Linked DNA regions of Homo sapiens: region 1 is linked to region 2. The links come from fine-mapping of genetic effects on gene expression. A gene starts in region 2. The other region holds a variant in brackets. All regions are shown on one strand. Distances are between the middles of the regions.

Region 1 (11,422 bases), 860 kb after region 2:
CCAGAGGCCTCGTACCTACTTCCCTACGCTGAGGGTGCATAAGGCCCAGATCCCTGATTTCTCCCTGAACAGGGGCTTCTGCTTTGGGGCCTGGGGTAGTTTCCCCACCAGCCAGCCTCCTAGAACATATTTCCAGGTAACAGGGTCTGGCATTGCTCTGGGGGAGTTTATGGAGGGGTCTTCTGGGTTGCAAGCAGAGACTATGGAGCCTGCCTCTCCACTTTGCCCTGGAACCCACCCCCTCTGGCAGCAAGAAAGAAGGGGAAGAAGCATGACTTACCTTCCCGGGGGAGTGGGAAGAGGGGGGACACGGCCCACTCTGAGCAATTAGAGGAAAGAGGAGGAAAAAATAAGAGGACAAAAAGATCAACACGACCTCGAAGGCGACAGGTCCTTATGGAAATAAGTAAGTAAATAAATAAATAAGGATCCACCCTCTCCCCCCTCTCCACCCTGCAAGGGGGATGTGGGGGTGGGGCAAAGGAACAGCACCAGGGCTTTTTAGTGTAACTGAGCATTAGAGAAATAGGCATGCTTCTATGTGAATTTAGGAGTTTGAAACTTTTGGAGGTTATTTATGTGAATAGCCTGAAGGCAAGCCCGTGAGTGGCTCTTGGGGGACCACGTGATATCATTAAACCAAGTTTTATGGTGTAGGGAGAGCTGACAAACCCACAATATATTTACATCATATATAATCTTAACTGTCCAGCCACGCAGCTGCTGGTGAGGTTTAATGCTAGGACAGAGGGCCTGGCAGTTAGAGGGGATTACGGCGCTGGGGACGATGGTGAGAGAGGTTACATCTTCGCAAATGAATCCCAGGCGAACGCTGTGAGTTAATTCTCTCTTTCTCTCTCTCAGACCCTTTCTCCCATTTACCTAACCACCCCCCTCACTTGATAGAAGGCAGCTCCCACTTATTAGGGGGAGGGGGAAAAGGCCTTCCCAGGCTGGGGTGGGAGAAGAGAAGAAGCAGCAGAAAAAGCTGCTGGGAAGTAGGAAGATGGGGGAGCTTGTCTACCCTGAGCAGCCCTCCCCTTCCCACTCCTTATTCTCTCTGACTGCAAGTCAACTGGGGTAGAGAGGCCTTGGTTGTTTAGAGATTTGCCAGGTCTTCCTGACCCTTTCAGTTGAGAAGAAAGCAAGCGGCAGCAACAAGGGTGTTTGGTGTCTGTACGGGTATGTAAACTCTAGACACAAGCTCAAAATGCCTCTGGGGCCCACTGTTCCAGGGAGGGGTGAGTTCAGCCCTTGGCCAGTGGCCCAAGGTGGGAAACTGGGGAGAAAGGCAGGGAAGGAGGGTTTTGTGGCTTCTACGCCCACAGGCTACTGCTGCCTGAACTGGCAAAAGTATCTCAAAGGTGGCTGTTTGAACCCAGAGGTCCCAGAGTGCCCCCTCCCTCCCTCACTACCAGGCTTGGATGGGCAGCTGTCTCAGCCTCCGTAGTTTGGCATCTTAGTCCGTCTGAAGCCAGTGTGGTTTCATGCTTCCTCCTCTCCTTCTAGCTGCTTGGGTCTTCCTGGCATTCCCAGCCCTTGCCTGAGATAAAACTAGGCTCTAAGAGCCCTAGAGGTTCCTGCTGTGAGTGGAGTGTAATTGTGTGTTGAATGGGTGAGGGAGCAGAGGCAATGTCTTTGCTAGGCTGGGAAAGTAAGTCCCCCAACCTTAAGGACAGAGTAGCCCCTCGGGGATGGAGCTAGCAGGGCCCAATATGAGCACTGCACCCTGGGGTCAATCCTCAGGCTAGGGCGCCCTTCAGGTTTCTAGGAAGGAGCAGCAGAAGCGTTGGGCATGAGAGGCACATGTCTTCCACACCTGCAATTGCTATCCCTCCCTGTGCGTCACCGGGAGCTAAGCCAGGAAAGTGACAACATGTGAATTCAGGCTCCTGTACTGGCCAGCCATGAATAGCCAGGGCTTTGGAAGCAGGGCTGAATGCCAGCGGACCCATAGGTGCAACTCCTCCAGGCTGGGAGAAAGGGGTGGGGAGCAGAGGGAGTGAGCCAGATATGCACCTTCCAGAAGGGGAGCATGCCTGGGGAGCAGCGGTGTCTGGGCATCTGCTTTGTGGAGAGGTGCTGTTGGGGGATGAGGAGGGAATGCTGTTAGCCTCGCCCCCGCTGCTCAAGGGACTGGGGAAGAAGCGAGAAGCAGGCAGACTCTGGGAGAAGGAAGGGGGCACAGAGGCCCAAATAAATGGGGAGTCTTAGCTGAGCCCCATTCTTCAGTCTAGGGGTCTCTCACTTGCATGAGGAGCTCGGGAACCCGACATGGAGGATTCCCTTGACGCCATCCCTCAGGGCCTCAGTCTCGGCCAAGATTCAGCCTCCCCCACCCTCCTCCCTGATACCTTTATTTTCCTAGGATCCCAGGGAATTCTCTCCAGCAACGCATTGGAAAAAACTAATTATCAGTTTCTCCCTTCCTCATTACCCGTCCTTCTTGGCTCTCTCCTTCCCTCTAGTCTGTGATTTTGAGAGTTTCTGGAAACTTTCCTATCCAAGCAGCGGAGACATGGGAGTTTCTCTTGGTCTGTAACTTGACTCTTCCCCACCCTCCAGCCTCCCCAGGGCTCTAGGGAGCGAGTGCAGTGGTCTTTAACCGGGAATTTAGCCAGGGCCGAAGTCCCACACCCAGGCAAGACTCCACCCTGACACCCGCCCTGACTCTCGGCCAAATCTCAGTCCCATTCCCTTCCTCTCTGTGTAGACGGGCATTCGAGGGTGTTTAAAGATTTACATAGCGTCCCTTGAGCCCTTTGATGACTTCTTCACCCCCTTTTCTGTTCTTTAGGCTCAAAAGTTCCATTTAAATACCACCCCTCTTCCTGTGATAATTGATTCTCCTTCCCCTCAAATAGTTTGCCTCAGTTTTTTACTGTTTTCTAAAAAGTTTCTAGTTCCACCTGGAAACAGGGCAAACGCAAAGGAGGCCTGAAATTCTTGGTTTTCCCACCCACTACCCCAAACCCTAATTTGGAGTGTCTCTGGAGCGGAGGGTGGGCAGGCAATCAGGTGCCAAGCTTTCCAGCCAACCCGGGAAGCTTTTAATTTTGTTCCTAGGACTTTAACCCAAGGAGAGGTCAAGCAACCAATCAGAAATGCACTAAGCAGGGTCACATGGTCCCCACCAACCAATCAGCAAAAACTACTTGGGTCTCTGTCTCGCTCTTCCCATCCGGCCCTGTTCCTTCCTCCCTCCCTCCCTTCCCACCACAGCCTTAGCTCCTGGGTTTATCCTATCTCAGATTTGGAAGGCTGGAGTGATACCCAGCATATTCTAGCCTCCTCTGTCAGTCCCTGAACCAACTCTGAGGAGTCTTTGGCTTGTCTCCTCAGTTGCTTACAAAGTTGTATCTGGGAGTCAATCTCAAATGCACAAGGATGTGAAGTTGTGGGGGCATCCTCTGGATTATTCCCACGTTCGCCAGCGTGATTCTACCCAATTTTCTGGGTGTTGTAGTTGTAGACTCTAAATTAGACTATAGAGCAAATACAGATATGAACTCCAGCCCTGAATTCAAATTCTGGCTGTGATTATTCCCCATACACTTACAAGTATTCATTCTCTTCTGATTTTCATGAGGGCAGGTGGGGTGAGAGGAGAGCCCTTTTGATTTCTCTTTCTGGAAATGCTCCAATAGCCATTAGCTTTATCAGACTGCCTCAGGCATGGTTAGGGAAGGGAGCAAAAGTGGAGATTTTTTGAAAGTTCTGATTGGTACCTTTCGTTTGTCGAATAACTTTGAGCTAGTTAAGGGTTCTGGAAAGGAATGAGCACAGAGAATTCCGACTTTCCTCACTCTCCACATTAAATAGTTGATGGATTTGTTTAAACCCCTTCCCTTCCATTCTTTTAACAGGATATAATAATAGTAATAATAATAATAGACTAGGTGATGATCCTATGTCCTGGCCAATAGCCATCAAAAGGTACAGCCACTGAAGGTGTGGATTTCAGTGTTTGAGTTTACATGGATTAGGCCAAGAACAAGCAATAGGCGAGAAACTATTGCTGAGTAAGAGCATCTGATGGCACAGGGAGTGCACAGCTATGACAGAAATGCTTGTGTTTCCTGAACACTTGGGCTGGGCCCTGAGCCAGTCCACTGCTGGGTCCAGACCCAGGTATTCTCCCCCAGCCACTTCTCTAGAGCTTTGTTTCAGAGTGAATTTTCTGGTTGGGTTCTCCTCCCCTTCTCTTCCTGATCTCTTGCCCTCTTTGAGCTAAGGGGCAGGAGTTCTGATGGACTGTGGCACCTGGACCTCTAAGCACCCCCCTGGGGGCATTAAGAGTACAAGAATGGGAAGGATAGTCCGGACTGAGCTGGGCTTTGTCAACAATCCCCTCATTGTTTGTCTTCTGGATGGAGCTGGTTTGGGGACAATGCCACAGGCCAGGTGGGAAGGATAAGGATGAGAAGCCAGAAAAAGAGCAGCTCTTCTCAGAAATCATTGAGCCCTCACTTTTCAAGTTACCTTCAACCACACTGCTCCATCTGCTTATTTTGAGACTAAGTTTCACTCTTGTCGCCCCGGCTGGAGTGCAATGGCACAATCTCGGCTCATCGCAAACTCTGTCTCCTGGGTTCAAGTGATTCTCCTGCCTCAACCTCCCAAGTGGCTGGGATTACAGGTGCCCACCACCACACCCAGTTAATTTTTGTATTTTTGGCAGAGATGAGATTTAATCATGTTGCCCAGGCTGACCTCAGGTAATCCACACGCCTCATCCTCCCAAAGTGCTGAGATTACAGGTGTGAACCACCGCGCCCAGCCTTTTCTTTTCTTTTCTTTTTTTTTTTTTTTTTTGAGATGGAGTTTCACTCTTGTTGCCCAGGCT[A/G]TAGTGCAATGGCAGGATCTCAGCTCACCGCAAACTCTGCCTCCTGGGTTCAAGCGATTCTCCTGCCTCAGCCTCCTGAGTAGCTGGGATTAGAGGCATGCACCACCACGCCTGGCTAATTTTGTATTTTTAATAGAGACAGGGTTTCTCCGTGTTGGTCAGGCTGGTCTCAAACTCCTGACATCAGATGATCCGCCTGCCTTTGCCTCCCAAGGTGCTGGGATTACAGGCATGAGCCACCGTGGCCAGCCCCATTTGCCTCTTTTATGAGTTAGAATTAAAGGACACACTTATTCTTCCCCAGTGAATGGTGTGGCAGATTGTTGGAGACCAACTCTCACCCTCAATGTGGACTTCTCACACTGGGGTACCAGATCTCATGAAGAGTTAGGAAACAAAGACAGGGGGAGATTGGTTCTATCCACACAGGCACTGGGAAAAGAGATTTTGTGAGTGCCTCGACCCCTCCTTGTGAGTGCCTCAAAAAGGTAAACTTTCTCTTTTTGACTGTCGTTCTCTGTAACTGCTTTGGACTGAGTTTTTGAGAGGGGGAATGCTGAAACATCATTGTTCTAGGATTTAATTAGGTCCTTTTTGCTGAGAAGACAAGCACCACCACCCTGAGCCTCTTCTTTAGTGGGACTAGGGCCCCTGAAGCCCTTTGAGGTGAAGGAGAAAGAAAATCTGAAATCAGGGTGCCAAACTAGGGTTTTGGGGTGAATGATTCAATTTAAGGAGAAGACGATGCTGTTTGAGAGCCAAGAAAGTCACATCCTTTCCTACCCCTCCCAACTTTTATTGGCTCCTTGTGACCCACATTGGTGTGTCTGTACTGATACTATCTCTGCTAGCAGCTTTGATGGGGCTCCAGGAGCCCAAGGAATTGCCAGACAAGGTCTGGGTTGAGGAACTTCGGTGATACAAATCTCTTTATTTTTGAGGCCTACACAACCCTTGTAATCATCTCCCTCTCCCAATCCTAAGGTTCACTGAGAGGCAAAAGGGGAACAGAGATACCTCAGAGGAAGCGGTATGGGTGTGCAATGTGGGACTTGGGAAAATTGGACTCGGTTATGCAGGACCTTGTTCAGCCTCTAAGGACCACATTTTAGCAGCTATGAGAAGAGGTTGAACACTTGGGCTGGGCCCTGAGCCGGTCCACTGCTCCAGGCATGCTGGGGAGCAAGTGCAGGGAGAAGGCTGCTTCTCTGCATCTGTACACATGTACAGAGAAAGTTCTACAGTGATCTGCAACCCCATATGGGCTGGGTGAAATGTGTAGCCTGGTCACCTAGGATCCTTTCAGTTCTGCACCACAGGTCTCAGAGAGGCAGTTCAGGCTTGGTTCTGCCCTCTAAAGATTCTCATTTACCCCAGCCCCTGGCCCTGAACACCAGAATACCTGAACACACAGAAACACATATATGTGCCCAAGGATGGTATGGTAGAGGTCAGAAGCCTGGGCTGGACACAGTAACCAGCATGGAACCAACTTCCCACTCCTCCCTCCCACTCCATTCTTCCCGTCAGCCCAGCTTGGAAACCATTTGTCCTCCCCACCCCACCCCCACCCCTCAAGCCCTGCGCAGCTGTTGAGTTTCCTTCCTTCTGCCTTTCTGGAAAACTCAAACGCTAGAGCTGACTCCAGGGATGGTGGCAGCCAGGCTTTCTGTGATCTTCAGTGTTGTGTTGGCCCAGATTGAGTTGTCAGGAGTTGAAGAGACATGGAGGGTCCAAGGAGGCCAGAATCTTATCTGATCTAATCCCCCTCTCCTTCTGTTCCAAGCTCAAACTCCAAACTCCTCAGGGCTCCCTTGCTCAGACATTAGAGATAAATCTTGTCTAGTAAATACTTCTTTTAAAAGTCAACTTTCTGGCTGGAAAACACAGGCTGTGTGTGTGTGTGTGTGTGTGTGTGTGTGTGTGTGTGTGTGTGTGTGTTTAGGGAGTAGTAAGGGTCAGGTCTTTCATTTTATGTTGTGTCTCTCCCCATCCCCTGGGTGGAGGATGGGGGCACAGGCTGAGGTTTTATTGAGGGTGCTTTTCCTGTTGGGAGTAAAGACAGGGTCATAAACGCCTAGAGTAGGGTGTTTTGATCTGGTGACTTCTCAGGAAGTAGCATCTGAGGTTTTGCTTTGTAAATCACTCTCCCCCAAAGCTGGCTTGGCAGATTGGATTGCACTTCCCCAAGCCCACCTGAGGCCCCTCCTTTCCTCCCTTCCCCAGTAAACTAAAGGAGAAATATAACAGAGCATCTGGAGTCTTCAAAATCCTCTGACTCCAATTTCTTTTTTAAAAGGCTAATTGGTGATTTTTTTTTCCCTCAAAGTTTTCCCCTAAAAAATAATGCAACGTTTCATTTCCTTTTGCCCATGCAGTCCCTGGTCCCCCAACCCCTCAGTCACAAAGGAACTAACATTGACAGTAAATAGCCTCAGAGCCTGGCTGTAGATATCAGGACTCTTCTGTTCTGGGGCTGATCTCTCCCTGTCACTCTTTCCCCAAGCCCCAAACCCCCTTTGACAAGGTAGAACTTCAGATGTATAAGACAGAGTTCATAGGAGCTAGGAATAAGAGGAGATGGCAGCGGGGCATAGGGGAACCCCATCGTGTACCGCATGAATGGAGGAAACTCTGCAGTCTGTCACTGGGTTTTTTTGTAATTAAGATGGGTGCAGGGGTGTGTGAGTGTGTGTGTTTGTGTGTGTGTGTGTGTGTAAGCCCCCAGCCTTCTCACATCTCTATGTACCAAACAAACAATATATTTTACCTAAATAACTCCATTTCCTAATGATAATGAGTCTTCCCCTCCTAAGGATCCCCCACCCCCTGGCTGGCAAGTCCCTCCCTTGTGCCTGGGGCTACAGAGCTGAAGGAAAACAAAGTTAAGAGCCCTCTAATTCAGCCTTAGTTCAAGCCAGATCAGGTCAGGAAGCTTTCAGGCCCAGGCATCAGGGCTTATATTCATTGCCAGCAAAATGCCCCTATATGCTGGAAATATGTCATAGATTATATGAGTTCCGGGCCCTCTTAGCACTTGCGAAGTCTCTAGTCCACCCTCATTTCTTTCTCAGAGAAGCCTGGGCTGGGATACCCCAAACCCACAAGCACTAGAGATTCCTCTTCATTCCTAGGACTCCATGCAAATAATCTTCACAGAGAGCTGAGCGCTCCCATAGTTATATATGTGAAAACGTATTTATAGATCGTTCTATGTCTATATCAGGATGTATGTTTTATATTCCTTTTTGTTCCACATTTAAATGCAGATTTATAGATCCATAGTGAACATAACAGTCCTCGGTCAAATTCCTGTGTGCACTTTACCAATCTTTCTATAGTGGTTGGATGTATATGCTAGGATGTATTGGTACAGCTCTCTTGAAACACCTAAGTGAATATTTGGAAATTTTTTTCTTTGTTGGAAAGAACTATGTGTGTGTTCAATGTCTATTTTGAAAATTTTATCTAGATTTATGCAAGGATCCTAACCCATAAAATAGCTACATATTGAAGCTACATATTTAGAGATCTTTACAGTCTTTGCATTTTTGCTGAAAAACTTACATGTTTGAACATATGTTTAGAGATGGTTTCATAATGCATGCATCTGTGTATAGGGGCATAGATCTCCCTTCTAGAAGGACTTAAACTTACTGCATCTCTCTGTCTCCCTCTCTATCTCTGTGTCTATGATATAAAAAGATATTAGGTGAGTGGGGGTAGGGAACAAATATATTTTGGATGTTTGGCTTATTAAAGCAAGTAATTCTGTCTCTATTTCTAAGGCCATCTCCAAAATCTAGTCCCACTAAGTTATCTGTCCCTCGAAAACCTACTCTAGGGGTCATAGACTGCCTCCAGGCTGCCTCTGTGACCTGAGATCCAAGCCGAAGCTCCCTACCTCTCAAGGTAGCCACTAAAAAGAAGGGGGAGAGAAGAAAGGGGAGAGTCCTCCAGCCCAGTTCCTGTTGGATCCCCAGGGCAAGAGGCTGACAGGGGCTTGTATATCTCCCTACACCCCCCACTGGGCCTTTGAAATGTGGGGGAAAAAGGGATCAAGTCCCCAACTGTTTTTATAGGGTGCCCAAATGATGCCAGGGTTACTGCACAACCCATAGGTTCCTCCTCCCCAGTTGTTCTCGGTGCCCAGGGCCCAATTAAGCGGCCGCCTTGCGCCCAGCAGCCCCGCTCTTATCGGCTGGGATTGATGCCTCCGCGTCTCCTGTATATCATTTCCAAGATTTTTTCTGTCCAACTCCTCGGCTCCTTTGGCTTCCGCGGCTTTGACTAATGATTGCTACAGATGCCAACGTCTCCAGAATCCTAATAGCCAGGCAGGCGGACTCTTATTTACCCGGCAACATTGCTGTGGGGGAGGGGGCCTGGGGGACAAGTATTGGGGTGTCGTAGGTCAGGGGACAGGGAGAAGGTTGTGGCCAACTCAAGTGTCACTGAACTTCTTCCCAGTCAGAAAGACATTCCCAATCCCCTTCTCTCCTTGAGGGAAATATATATATATATATACACAGTTAATGGTAACTCATTGCTGCCTCGTTAGAAAAGATCAAAGAATGAACACAACGTGGTAGAATAAGCAGAGCAATGTTTATTTGTTGTAAATAAATGAGAGAATAAGTGGAAAACCAGCAGTTTGGGGAGGAAAAAGAGAAAGGGAAAGAAGTCAGCCACAGTGGGAGAAGGGGCTCCTTTTCTTCATTTCTTGTCTTCCCCTTTCTCTCCCCACCCTAAGTCTACCCTTCTCATCAATTTCTCCCCTCTTTCCCTTCCTTCGCCTCACCTTCAATCCCTTGGGTGGAGGGGCTGAACAGCGTGTTCCCGGGCGGAGGTGCGCGCAGCCACCCCAGGCTGCTGCCAGGTGCCCGCTGGGGCTGCCAGGGCGAGGAGGCCTCTGGGCTGTGGAGCGAAAGTCAGATCCACCGCCTACTGCGGGGTAGGGGCCGCAGTGGGGACCGCCAGCCCTGTGGTCCCTCTCGCGCTGACTGGCGTAAAGTTGTGGCCGAATTCGCATCTCTTCTGGTGCTTCTCGCCCGCCAGCGCAGGGCCCAGGTGTTTGAGGCGAAGGGGCTCTAGCTCCCCGCAAGCCTGGAGCCAGGCGTCGCGCTTCCTCCGGGCTTAATCCAGACCTTTCAACACACACCTCATTCGGGGGAGGAGAAAAGCACAGGACCGCGGAGAGCCCAGCTTTGAGGCCAGGCCTGAAGGGATAACCCACACAGGGAACGTTTTCCTATCAGAGAATAATGGAGCACAAAATAATTCAGAAAGCGAATGGGCAGGACCACAGCCTGAGAGTCCCGCGCCGCGGGGCCGCTGCAGAGCCGGTCTCCCGAGCACCGCGGCAGGACCATTTCGTTGGAATGTAGGGCGAGGCCGAAGCCCGCCCCGGACCCAGGCCGCGAGGTGCGCGCCGGCCGCCGAGGGGCCGCCTGTAAATTACAGCCCGCCGGGAGGACTCGGAAATACACAAAAGGAGCCGAAAGATTTAAACAGTCGGAGGCAGAGGCGTCCCGAGGCGGCCAAAGCGGAAATCAATCACGTAATTAAAACAGGGAGGGGACGAAGCCCAAGGCTGGGGGTCCCGGGTTCGGAGGAGGCGGCCAAGGTGCAGGCCGAGGCTGGCGAGCGGCTTAGGGACGTGGCTCGCCCGCCAGGACCAGAGCGCGCGGAGGGGCTTCGGGGAAGTTTATAACACATCGCTATTGATTCCCGCTTGGCTAGGAAGAGCAGACTCTGGTGCCCTCTCCCAGGCCAGACCCTGAAGCCTCCGATGGCCCCTTCTCCGACTTTCCCGTTTTTGTGGGGTTGAGACGCGCAGTTGCAGTTGAAGGCCGCTCCCCAGATCCCACTGGTGCCACGATTTTGCCAAGGCAAGTTTGCGAACCCAAATGGCATCAAGATGCTGCCTTTGGGTTTGAGGGGATGGAGGGAGGTGACACCCCAGTTTCAGGCACTAAGAAATCTCTCTCGGCCTTGATTCCTCCAACCCAGGATTCAAAGCATGCCCGGAAAGACTCTGATCTATGGGCCGAGGCTTGGAAGGGGTGTGCGAGGCAGACGGGGTTATTAAAGGGAGAGCTTGGGGCTGAGCAAACTGGACCCCTTTGGGCTGGAAAGGAGAAAGAACAGCTCCTGGAAGAGAAAAAAAGGCACACCGGGAGCTGTGTTTTGTGAGGGGAAGATCTTATTATTGAGGTTAATCATGGTAATGATCTGGTATGGCTGGGTCAGCCCAGGAGACCGCGCTCTCCAAAGTTCTTTCTCACAGAGGTTTCTCTGGGGGAGTCAAGGGTTCCCCAACTTCACTATGGTTGGGGAAAATAAAATAAAGACCTCCAATCCTCTCCTCTGCCTTTTCCTCTCCCTCCCTTAAAAACTCCAGAAAAAGGGAAACCTTATAAAATCTCCATCACCCCACTTATTTTTCCTTGGCTCTCTCCAGTTTACTAAAATGCACGGTCTTTGGGAATTGAGTTTTTCTGGAGCACCCTTCTTGTGAAGCAACAGAGGTGACCCGACCAAGTCCTCATGAATTCTGATGCTGACCCTGGAGAG
Region 2 (11,422 bases):
GAGGTGGGTGGATCACCTGAGGTCAGGGGTTTGAGACCAGCCTGGCCAACATGGCGAAACCTCATTTCTACTAAAAAATACACAATTAGCCGGGCGTGGTGGCGGGTGCCTGTAATCCCAGCTACTCAGGAGGCTGAGGCAGGATCCACCTGAACCTGTGAGGCGGAGGTTGCACTGAGCCAAGATGGTACCACTGCACTCCAGCCTGGGCGACAGAGTGGGACTCCATTTCAAAAATATATATATATATGGAGGAATTAAGGGGGTACAAGAATTCTAAAATATACAAATCATCAGGCTCAAGGAATGTCCCTTGCACATCATGTGGTTTCCCAACTCCTCAATCCACTGTTATCAAAGGTCTAATGGAAGGCAAAGGGAGCCACACACTGCTCATCTCTATTACGCAACCCCTCAACCCCCGCTGGCTCTCAGGGAAGGGAATGGGTTCAGTTTGTTCAGCAAACATTGACTGAGTGTTGTCTACTTCTGAGCGCCTGGCTGGCATTACCCTAGGTGCTGCATCTGCCCTGTGGGCTCCAGCTAACAGGCTGGCAAGAGAGACCTGCATGTAAAATAAAGGGAAATTGCCACAAGAGGGAGTTGAGAGGTCACCATGGAAAGGCAGGAAAGTTCAACTGGCCCAGGACAGGCTTCAAGGACAAAACACTAAGGCTCTCCTTAAGGCAATAGAGAGCTGGTGCAGGAAAAGACTCAGCAGGAGTCATTGCAATGCTATTTGAATAAGTGATGGAGTGGGCCTGAGGGAAGAGGGAGTTAGGGAAGGTCACACAGGAGGAGGCCTGCCTGGGGACAAAGGGATCTAGGCAATTGTCTCCTGAAGCGCTCTCAGCCAGGTTTATGGTTAGAAAGCTAAAGTACTCTGTGCTATCTCCCAATCAACAAACCCTAGTGGCTCCACACCCACATTAATAAAGGCACAAACTCTCCTATGTATACAATCTTTTCTCTGCTTCTAGACTGTACTCTCCTGGGTGGAGAGAACTAAGTCTTTTCCTTCATTAAGTAAACTAATAGAAAACAGGGACCCCTCAAATGTTAGTTTCCATCTTCTTGATTGTCCTCTCCCCTCCCCCAGGGACTTGCACAGAGGCATTACATAAACATTTGTTAAATCAATCAATGATTTGCAGGTACTGGAAAAAATGCTGCATTCTACTTACATTTGATTTGCATCAACCAAGAATCTGTAGTAATGATAATAGATTTGCAAAGGGTGTTTTTCCTTCTCATTTATTATCTTATTTGACCTTCACAATAGTATTAGAAATTAGCCTAAATAGGTATTTATTCATTCTTGTTTTCAAGATGAGGATTCTTAGCTGAAAGAAGGTGAACTAATTGTCCAAAATTACAAAGGTGACATGGGAACAAGCCTAGATCACTGACTTTCTGACTTTAGGCTACCTCTTCCACTGCATCACAGGTCCGTGTGGCATTTCTCACTATTTCTCATCATTGACAAAAATTAACTGCAGCTAAGATAAAGACAGAAACTGAAAATATACAACCATAAGAATACAAGAAGGGGGGGTGAGGGGCGGGCACAGTGGCTCAAGCCTGTAATCCCAGCACTTGGGAGGCCGAGGCAGGTGGATCACCTGAGGTCACCTGAGGTCAGGAGTTCGAGACCAGCCTGACCAACATGGTGAAACCCCGTCTCTACTAAAAATACAAAAATTAGCCGGGTGTGGTGGTGCATGCCTGTAATCCCAGCTACTTGGGAGGCTGAGGCAGAAGAATCGCTTGAACCCGGGAGGCAGAGGTTGCAGTGAGCCAAGATCGCACCATTGCATTCCAGCCTGGGCAGCAAGAGCAAAATTCCATCTCAAAAAAAAAAACAAGAATACCAGAAGGGGCTGGGAGCAGTGGCTCACGCCTGTAATCCCAGCACTTTGGGAGGCCAGGGCGGGTGGATCACGAGGTCAGGAGATCGAGACCATCCTGGCTAATATGGTGAAACCCCATCTCTACTAAAAATACAAAAAATTAGCCCGGCATGGTGGTGGGCACCTGCAGTCCCAGCTACTCAGGAGGCTGAGGCAGGAGAACGGCGAGAACCCGGGAGGCGGAGCTTGCAGTGAGCCGAGATCATGCCACTGCACTCCAGCCTGGGTGACAGAGCGAGACTCCATCTCAAAAAAAAAAAAAATATTTATTTATTATTTTAGAGAATAAGTTTTGCTGTATCACCCAGGCTGAAGTGCAGTAGCACAATCATGTCTTACTGCAGCTTCGAACTCTTGGGCTCAAACAATTCTCCCACCTCAGCCTCCTGAGTAGCTAGGACTACAGGCACATGCCAGCATGCCGGGTTAATTTTTTAATTTTTTGTAAACAGGGTCTCACTATGTTGCCCAGGCTGGTCTTAAACTCTTGGCTTCAAGCAATCCTCCCACCTCAGCCTCCCAAAGCACTGGGATTACAGGTGTGAGCCACCTCGCCTGGCCAAAATATAATGTTTTTATTGTGAATCAGATTATTTATTCTATGGTATTTTAGTGTTGGTTATATTCTTATATTTTATTTATATAATTTTTGTTTGTTAATCTGACATCTGGTCATGTTGCTGAACTCCATAGTTTTGATACATTGTCAATCGTTTCTCTTTGTAAGATGAATATATATGAAATCAAGGAGGCTTTAGGGTGGCCAGGAGCTCTCCTAAAATCTTAGTTTTAATAGTAAACATCCCTGGCTTGTTCCTAGCAAAGACAGAAATGTTTCAAATATTTTCCCATAAAGCATGACTTTTGTCTCAAAAGCTGAAAGATAAGTGAAAAAGAGAAAATATTTTAAATGCAGACGACAAAGAATAGTTATTATCCATAACACAGACAGGATTTCTACCATCAATAAGAAATATACAAATGATCTACCTTTTTTTAATGGGCAAAGGATATGAACAGACAGTTTACAAAAACAATTAAAATGGTCAAAGAGCAATAAAATAGTCCCACCTATTTGGAAGGCTGAAGTGGGAGGATCACTTGAGCTCACGAGTTGGAAACCAGCCTAAGGCAACAAAGCGTGGAGACCCATCTATTTATTTATTTATTTATTTATTTATTTTTTGAGACAGAGTTTCGCTCTTGTTGCCCAGGCTGGAGTGCAATGGCACAATATGGGCTCACTGCAACCCCCGCCTCCCGGGTTCAAGTGATTCTCCTGCCTCAGCCACCTGGTAACTGGGATTACAGGCACGTGCCACCAAGCCCAGCTAATTTTTTTGTATTTTTAGTAGAGATGGGGTTTCTCCATGTTGGCCCAGCTGGTCTCAAACTCCTGGCCTCAGGTGATCCGCCCACCTCGGTCTCCCAGAGTGCTGGGATTACAGGCGTGAGCCACCGTGCCTGTCCAGAGACCCATCTCTTAAAAAAAAAAAAGGCAATAAGAGAATATTAACTTCACTATTAATGACATGAAAATTAAAACAAATACTATTTTTCACCCATTAAACTAGTAACTGTATAAAAAATTCATAGCATACACTAAACATTGCCAAAGTTGTAGGAATAGGGAACATTCACACATGGTTCTGAGTAAACATGGGAGTTGTTACAAACTTTTACAATTCATTTTCACAGAATCTATTAAAATTTACATATCCGGCCAGGCATGGTGGCTCAATCCTGTAATCCTAGCACTCTAGGAGGCCGAGGCCAATGGATAGCTTGAGCCTAGGAATTCGAGACCAGCCTGGGCAACATGGCAAAACCCTGTCTCTACAAAAAACAAAAAAACAAAAAAAAAACTACAAAATTATCCAGGCACAGTTGCCCACATCTGTAGTCCCAACTACTTGGGAGGCTAAGATGGGAGGATTCCTTGAGCCCAGGAGGTTGAGGCTGCAGTGTGCCCTGACTGCACCATTGCACTCCAGCCTGGGCGACAGACCAAGACCCTATCTTTAAACAGAATGAAAATAGGGCCGGGTGTGGTGGCTCACACCTGGAATCCCAGCACTTTGGGAGGCCAAGGTGGGTAGATGACCTGAGGTCAGGAGTTCAAGACCAGCCTGACCAACATGGTGAAACTCCATCTCTACTAAAAAATACAAAAAAATTAGCCGGGCTGGCAGCAGGCGCCAGCTACTCAGGAGGCTAAGCCAGGAGAATTGCTTGAACCTGGGAGGTGGAGGTTGCAGTGAGCCAAGATTGTGCCATTGCACTCTAGCCTGGGTGACAGAGTGAGACTCCATCTCAAAAAAAAATAAAAATAAAAATAAATTTAAATAAAAGCACATATCCTATCTATAAATCCTTATAAATGCAAAAGGTAACTTTTTTTTCTTTTTTGAGACAGAGTTTCACTCTTATTGCCCAGGAAAGGCACGACTCTCGCCTCACCACAACTCCCGCCTCCCGGGTTCAAGTGATTCTCCTGACTCAGCCTCTCGAGTAGCTGGGATTACAGGCATGTGCCACCACGCCCGGCTAATTTTGTATTTTTAGAAGAGACGCGGTTTCTCCATGTTGGTCAGGCTGGTCTGGAACTCCCGACCTCAGATGATCCGCCCACCTCGGCTTCCCAACGTGCTGGGATTACAGGTGTGAGCCACCCTGCCCGGAGCAAAAAGATAACTATTTAAGGATGTTCATTATTGTATTGTTTATAAAGCAAAAAAATCTGAAACCTAAATGTTCATCAAGATGGGACAAGGCACACACATAAACTGGAATACTGTGCAACAGTTTTTTAAATGTTAGCTGACTCAGATGTCTAAAATACACTGTATGGCGCATTACAGGTGCTCAATAAATACTGGTTGAAAAGATTTTTGTATGAACACAGAAAAAAGCCTAAAAGCATATATACCAAACTGGTAAGAATGATTCCCTTCAGGAGCATGGGATAAGTAGAGGGGGAGAATAACCATTTTGTGTCTTTTATACTTTTGCGTTGTGTCGATTTGTAAAATAAGTAGGAGCTAATTTTCAAAAAAGATTTAAAAGACTTATTCCTGGTGATGTTTCTTTATCTCTCTCTTTCTCCATTTTGTCTCTATTTTAGAATGATCCTAAAACACAAAAAACGTACTTTCAATGGCCCAAATCATGGAGTGGCTCAGGGAAATGAAATCTGTCTACAAAAAAAAAAAAGTTGAGAATCCTTGTCTTTTTTTCATCATACAGTTTTTTTTTTCTTTTGGTATCACCATTACTTCTCCTAAAGTCACGACATAATATCACCTACAGCAGAAATGAGGACTTCAGTGGAATTGACATCTCCTTCCATCAAGCGCATTTGCAGTCCATCTTTAGCAGGACCTCTCTCTAATGGCTAAGGCTAGGCAGAAGAATTTGAAGACAGTCTGGTTTCCATTTTCCTAATGCAGCCTGGCCCAAGAGCCAGGACTCCCATAAGACTAGTCTACTGTGGGAGTCAGGGTCTTTTCCACGTGTGGAGGCTAGTGTTTGATGCTGGACGGCCTGGAGTAAAGGGCGAAGGGGAGAAGGTAACCAACCAGGCTGGCCTCGGGATTCGCAGAGGAGGGCTGGGGCTTTGACTTCTGCAGGGAGGTGAGCAGTGTGGCCAAGGGCTACTCAAGGAACGCCTCTGCGAGAATTCAGACTGTGGTTGAGCGCACAAAGCAAGAGTGTGCGAAGAAAAGTTAACGCCTCTCCCAGCTGACCCCAAAATCTGCTAATCTGGGCCTGACGGAAAAAATTCGGAGAAGAACCACCTCGGCCGAGTTACGTGAAAAGGCTGGGTACGAACTACTCTGGCTCTACTTGGGGCGCCGGCTCAGAGCGATGGGCAGGACGTCCGCGAGGAAGAAAGAGTGACGATGATTTTTCAAGGAGTCTGAACCAGCTCACCCAGCAAACCCTCCTCCCATCGAGCACCCAGCGTACAATCATCGAAGGGCCGAGGGTCCTGCCCTCAGTCTCGATGGCGGCCGGGGCGCGCCCCGGCCACGGCGCACGCGCCGGCCTCAGCGCTCCCTCCTCCATGCCCTCGGCGCACGGCGCCGCCCACTCACCCAGCTGCACCTCTCCGTGCGTCCCCAAGCTCACCCGCTCTGAGGCTGCCCCCGCTAGTCTAGCTGCCGAGCCCGGAAGTGGATGCAGCCGCTCGGCGGAGAGGACGAGGGGGAGGGGGAAGTGCTTCCGGGGAAACGGGCCGGGGTTGGTGTTTGTAAACTTGCCTCGGTCCCGGTGGGGGCAGCCGCGGCGGTGGGGTTGGCAGGGTGTGCTGGGGCCTGGAGGAGGCGCCGCGCGGCCAGGGAGCCAGCGGGAGGCCGCGCCTGGCAGGTAGGAGCAAGCCCCAAAGACCGCAGCGTCGTCCGTACAGACGGCAGCGCTTCAGTAGCTCGCAAGCCGTGGGGTGCCGCGCGGGAAGGGGGAGGGGAGGGGAGGAGGGGCGCGTGGCGAAGGGAGGGGGATCTCCGGGGGAGGGAGGGGAAAGGCCGTGCGCGCACACCGCCCCCTGCCCGCGCGTCCCGCCGCGTCCCCGGCCCGGGAGAGGGCTCTCGGAGGGGACGCGGGCGCGAGCACGCATCTCGCGCGCTTCTCGGCACTCTCCGGCTCTGCTCCCGGTTGGTGCAGCGGGTGCAGAGGCTGGCTGGCCGGAGCGAGGCGGGCGACACGCCGCGCCGGGCTTCGCCTGCCTGTCCTCCACCTCCGCAGCAAGTTTCCCTACCTTCGGGCGGACGGGGAGAACGCACACGTGTGGGCACTGCCAGTCCCGTTTCTGCCCGCCACCGAAGCACCCAGCGATGGCCCTTGAGCTTTCCTCCACCCTAGTCTTGCCGCCTCTGTAAAGTGCGAGCTTTTCGGGCCGGCCCACTGGGCACAAAAGCCCCAAAGGGTCTCCGCCCCCTTCTTCCATTCCTGAGATGGCAAATCCAAGCAACTTTCCTTTTGGCAGAGTTCCTCCATAGGAGGCCCCAATTACTTTTGCTCCTGTTGGCTTCCACTCCTTGCCCAGGAGACCAGTTCCTCCTATTGACCTAGAAAGAAAACTCTTCTTGACTCATGTCCTCGTTCTGAGCTTCACAGAGAGCGCCCAGCAAAAAAAAAATTCATATCGCACGTTGTAATGGCCTGAAGATGTTGCATTTAGCAGCCCCCCTCTTCCTTTCTGGTTTCAGGTTTCTGAAACAGATCGTGAGCTTCATCAAGAGAATTCAACTGGAAAACCAAGACTGGTAGACTCTCTTTTTCTTCAGACAATAGGCAGGAGCCAGGCAGAGTCCAGGGATTCTTGGAACACCTATCTTTTCTTCGGAGGACACTAAGTTCTATTTGAAGACAAAGTTCAATATGGCAACAGGACTGATGGGACACGAAGGAGTCGCTACCGTGATTTGGTGACAGTTCTTCAAAACGACAGTGTCTCAAGGAAAGGTGGACCTAGGAACTCCTGAACTTTTGGGTTGCCTTAAGTGAGAAATCAGCATGGCTCAGGTAAAAAGCTCTAGAGTCCTCCTCCAAGATAACTGGGAAGCCTGTTTGCAGTTTCACTCTTGAATGCTGCCTTAGTCAACATATTGACCAACCCCAGTGATCCAAGCTCTGTATTAAGCACCAGGGGGAGATCTAGAGGAAGGAAAGGAGACAGGCCACAGCCCCTGCCTTCAGGGAGCTTCCAGTCAAATGAAGGAGGTAGGCTATACTGCATCACAGGCACTGATGGGACATTTGCAAAGCAACGTGTACTCAGTTTACATTTGGTACATTAAGTGCTGAGGGGTGTAAGGGAGTGAATAGTACGGTGAATGCTTCTTTTGTTTTTTTCCAACAGGAATTTATTGAGTTCCTGTTGCATGCAAGGCATTGTGCTGGGAATACAAAGATGAATACGATTGTCCTTGTCCCCAGTGAGCTTCCAGGCTAGTTGGGGTCGGGAGAGGGATGGAAAGCCATTTATTTTTATATTCACAATGCCTTGTATAGTGGCTGGCTAGTAGTAGAGACTCTGAATCTGTTGATTGAGGAATGTGCAATAATAGGGGTATGTACATAGGAGAGAACAGTACTTCTGCTTGGATAGAAAAAGAAGATGGAGGTTGAAAGATGCATAGGATTTTGCTAAACAAGCGAGAAGGGTGTTTGGACAAAAGGAACAGCATGGGCAGGAGCTTAGAGTCATGGGAAAATGTGATGAGGTTCCGAGTACTGCAGGTTGTTTGATAGTTACGGAGTAAGGGATTTAAATGGGGATAGTTATGGAGGTAGTATTGACAGTGATAGGTGAGGAAGTTGTTCCCTGCAGTAAGCAGAGTGTAACCCAAAGGCCTTTTATGCCTCGCTAAGTTAAGCAGCAGAGTAGCATCAGATCAGTGTTATGTAGAAGGTCATTATTGTGGAGGTAGAGGATGGACTGGAGAGACAGAATGAGCAGATAGGCTGTTGTAGTCATCTGAGTAGAATAGCTATGTGCACACATCTCCAGAGCTTCTCCCAGCTTGCTTCTAGGGAACCTCCCTACCAGTCTCACCAGGATGGCAGTCTGATTGTAGTATAATTGGCTTTCCTCCAGCTGCTTCTGAATGCACAGCTTCCTCCTTTCCATATAGAATAGGAGCCTGTCAGTTTCTTCTTCCTTTGTGTTTTGCAACCCACTTCTCAGCATTGTATTCAGTCTTCTGAGAATGCTGCCTTCCACTAAGGACTGAACTTTGTGCTAGACACTGTTAAGCGTTTTACGTCTTAGTTTACTTTTCATCAACCCTGTAAGGATAAGCATTATGACAGGCATTTTTCATGTAAGGAAACTAAGGCTTGCAAAGGTGGAATAACTTGCCCAAGATTATAGAGTGCAAACAGCTGAGCTAAGATTTTAACTCTGGATCTTTCACTCCAAAGTCCCAGAAGGTGGAGGGAGGGGTCCCAGAACGTACTGATCATCTAAAAGGAATTTCTTCATAAATTTGTGAGTTTGCTGACCAACGATTTCTTAAAATTTTTTTTTTCAGTAAGAAAAGTATTTTCTTTAATGCCGGCTAACCGAAGTCAGTTTGAAGAATGTAGCAGTTTTCTGGAAATTTACTTAAACATACCTTACTTAAGTAATTGTTTAAATTATATATGGAGCAAGGAATGTGAAAAAAAATGTGATCATACAAGCACACATATAAATGGCCTAAGAGGTCAAGAGAAATGCTGAACTCCAAAAATCATATCAGTTGCAATTGGTAAATACTTAGGGAGTTTAAAATCTAAAGGGAGAAATAGCCTGTAGTCCCAGGACCTTAGGAGACTGAGGCTGGAGGATTGTTTAAGCTCAGGAGTTCCACACCAGCCTAGGCAACATGGTGAAACCCCGTCTCTATAAATACAAAAAAAAATAGCCGGGTGTGGTGGCATTCTCCTGAAGTCCCAGTTACTCAGGAGGTAGAGGTAGAAGGATCGCTTAAGCCAGGGAGGTCAAGAGTGCAGTGAGCCGAGATCGTGCCACTGCACTCCAGCCTGGGCGACAGAGTGACACCCTGTCTCAACCAACAAGCAAAAAATGAAACAAACCGATAGAAAATACAGTTGGCACCAGCAAGATCTGCCAATCAAAAGTGGGCTCTGAAGCTAAGGGGTGTGTGTGTGTGTGTGTGTGTGTGTGTGTGTGTGTGCGCGCGCGCGCTCTGAAGCTAAGGGGTGTGTGTGTGTGTGTGTGTGTGTGAGTGACGGAGGGATTCTCGCTCTGTTGCCCAGGCTGGAGTGCAGTGGCGCGATTTCGGCTCACTGCAGCCTCCGCCTCCCGGGTTCAAGCAATTCTTCTGCCTCAGCCTCCCGAGTAGCTGGGACCGCAGGTGTGTGCCACCACACCTGGCTAATTCTTGTATTTTTAGTATAGACAAGGTTTCACCTATTGTCCAGGCTTGTCTCGAACTCCTGACTTCGTGATCCGCCCGCCTCATTCTCCCAAAGTGCTGGGATTATAGGTGTGAGCCACTGCACTCGGCCCAGCTGAGGGCTGTTGAGGGAGGAAGGAGGAAGGTCCTGAAGGAATCTCCTGTGTCAGTGGGTTAGCAAGATGGAACCTCATACCCACTCACAGTTAAGGCCTAGAAATACCTTCAAAGAAATATGTAGCCACACACTGCCTAGTGCTGATGACAAAGGTGTCAGTAATACTTGATTATTTACTTGATCTATATTTAAATGCTGAAGGATGACAAGATAAGTCGTTCCTGGTGAGATGAGTTAGGGAGGACTCTTGAAGGAAGCAAGGCTTTGGCAGTGAGGAGGGACATTCCCTGGAGAGAAGCAGTTTGTAGCAGGGTGTAAAAGGTAGTTCTATAGAGGATGGCAGTCTGTTTTTGCCCTGCCCTGCCAGGTGACCTGACACCTCATCTCCTTTCAACTTAGGCAAGTCTCCTGGCTTGTGAAGGCCTAGCAGGTGTGAGTTTGGTTCCCACTGCAGCCAGCAAGAAGATGATGCTGAGCCAGATTGCCAGCAAGCAGGCCGAGAATGGCGAGCGGGCAGGTAGCCCTGATGTGCTGAGGTGCTCGAGTCAGGTACAGCGCTTGAGTCCATTGTGGCACCTGGGGATCGGGTGGCCCAAGCTCTCTGCCAGGAGATACCAAGCTCTGATTCCTTGATGCTTCCTCATAGGGAAGTGGGGCAAGGGGATCCAACTGGGGAATGGATGAACATTGGTATTTCAGAAAGCTAAGGAAGGTCTTTTGTGTGCCTTCAACTCTTTTAAGACCAGGTGCTTGGAGAGGAAATAGTTGTATACTTCCTCTAAGCTTTCGGGGCAGGTGGTTTACTCTCATTTATGAATTTTGTCTGAGAGCTGCATTGGGTCTCATCTCATGTTCCGAGATGGGCTATGAGTTTAGATTTGATTTGTCTTCAAAGGGTCACCGAAAAGACAGTGATAAGTCCCGGAGCCGCAAAGATGATGACAGCTTGTCTGAGGCCTCTCATTCAAAAAAGACTGTTAAAAAGGCAGGTAATGGGGTGATCCCCCAAACTCATACAGTTTGGTAATGGGGTAATATTCCTCCTTCTTCCCTCTACCATGTAACCTGGAGCTTTCCCTAGATGCTTTGATCTCTGATAGCCAGTGAGTGAGTCCCCCAGATTTCATCCAGAGACTACCTTGGTAGTTGATCTCCTGCCTTGCTGGAACAGTAATGGTACAGGTTGGGGAGCATGAGATCCCAGATCCCGAGGCATGGGAGCAGGCAGGCTCCAGCTCAAGTCATACTCAGACTGCTGGGTTTGACAGGATAGACAGCTTACCCACTCCACCTCCTTCCCCAAAGGGTCTCTTACCTCCATGGAGTACAGGAGATGGCAGCACCTTTAGACAGCATCAGAGAGGTTCCTTTCTCCAACAGCTGGAAGTGGACCCAGAGTAGAACAGTGTCTCCAGGAAGAGGGCAGTGGTGGCCTCATGACATGCCTGATTATTGCCCCCAGGTGGTGGTAGTGGAACAAAATGGTTCTT

The links. PIP is the estimated chance that this variant, and not a neighbour inherited with it, causes the effect.
Region 1: its variant is fine-mapped to the expression of ZNF740 in monocytes (Schmiedel 2018, PIP 0.95).

Annotation. Positions count from the first base shown.
Region 1 is chr12:54,037,181-54,048,602 of GRCh38, forward strand. It overlaps a transcript of HOXC4 not described here. Among named protein-coding and RNA genes, the nearest start is that of MIR615, 8.9 kb to the left of the region's middle. RefSeq lists an enhancer at 9,261-10,160. The variant A/G (reference allele first, on the strand shown) is at 4,847.
Region 2 is chr12:53,174,560-53,185,981 of GRCh38, forward strand. It overlaps ZNF740 (zinc finger protein 740), which reads left to right and starts at 6,163. Exons shown (of 7, transcript NM_001004304.4): 1 at 6,163-6,278; 2 at 7,118-7,433; 3 at 10,332-10,481; 4 at 10,828-10,917; 5 at 11,395-11,422. The coding sequence starts at 7,425. It overlaps CSAD (cysteine sulfinic acid decarboxylase), which reads right to left and starts at 6,366. Exons shown (of 17, transcript NM_001244705.2): 1 at 6,173-6,366; 2 at 4,543-4,583. RefSeq lists enhancers at 320-1,255, 5,632-6,190 and silencers at 5,853-5,942, 6,233-6,532, 6,886-7,180.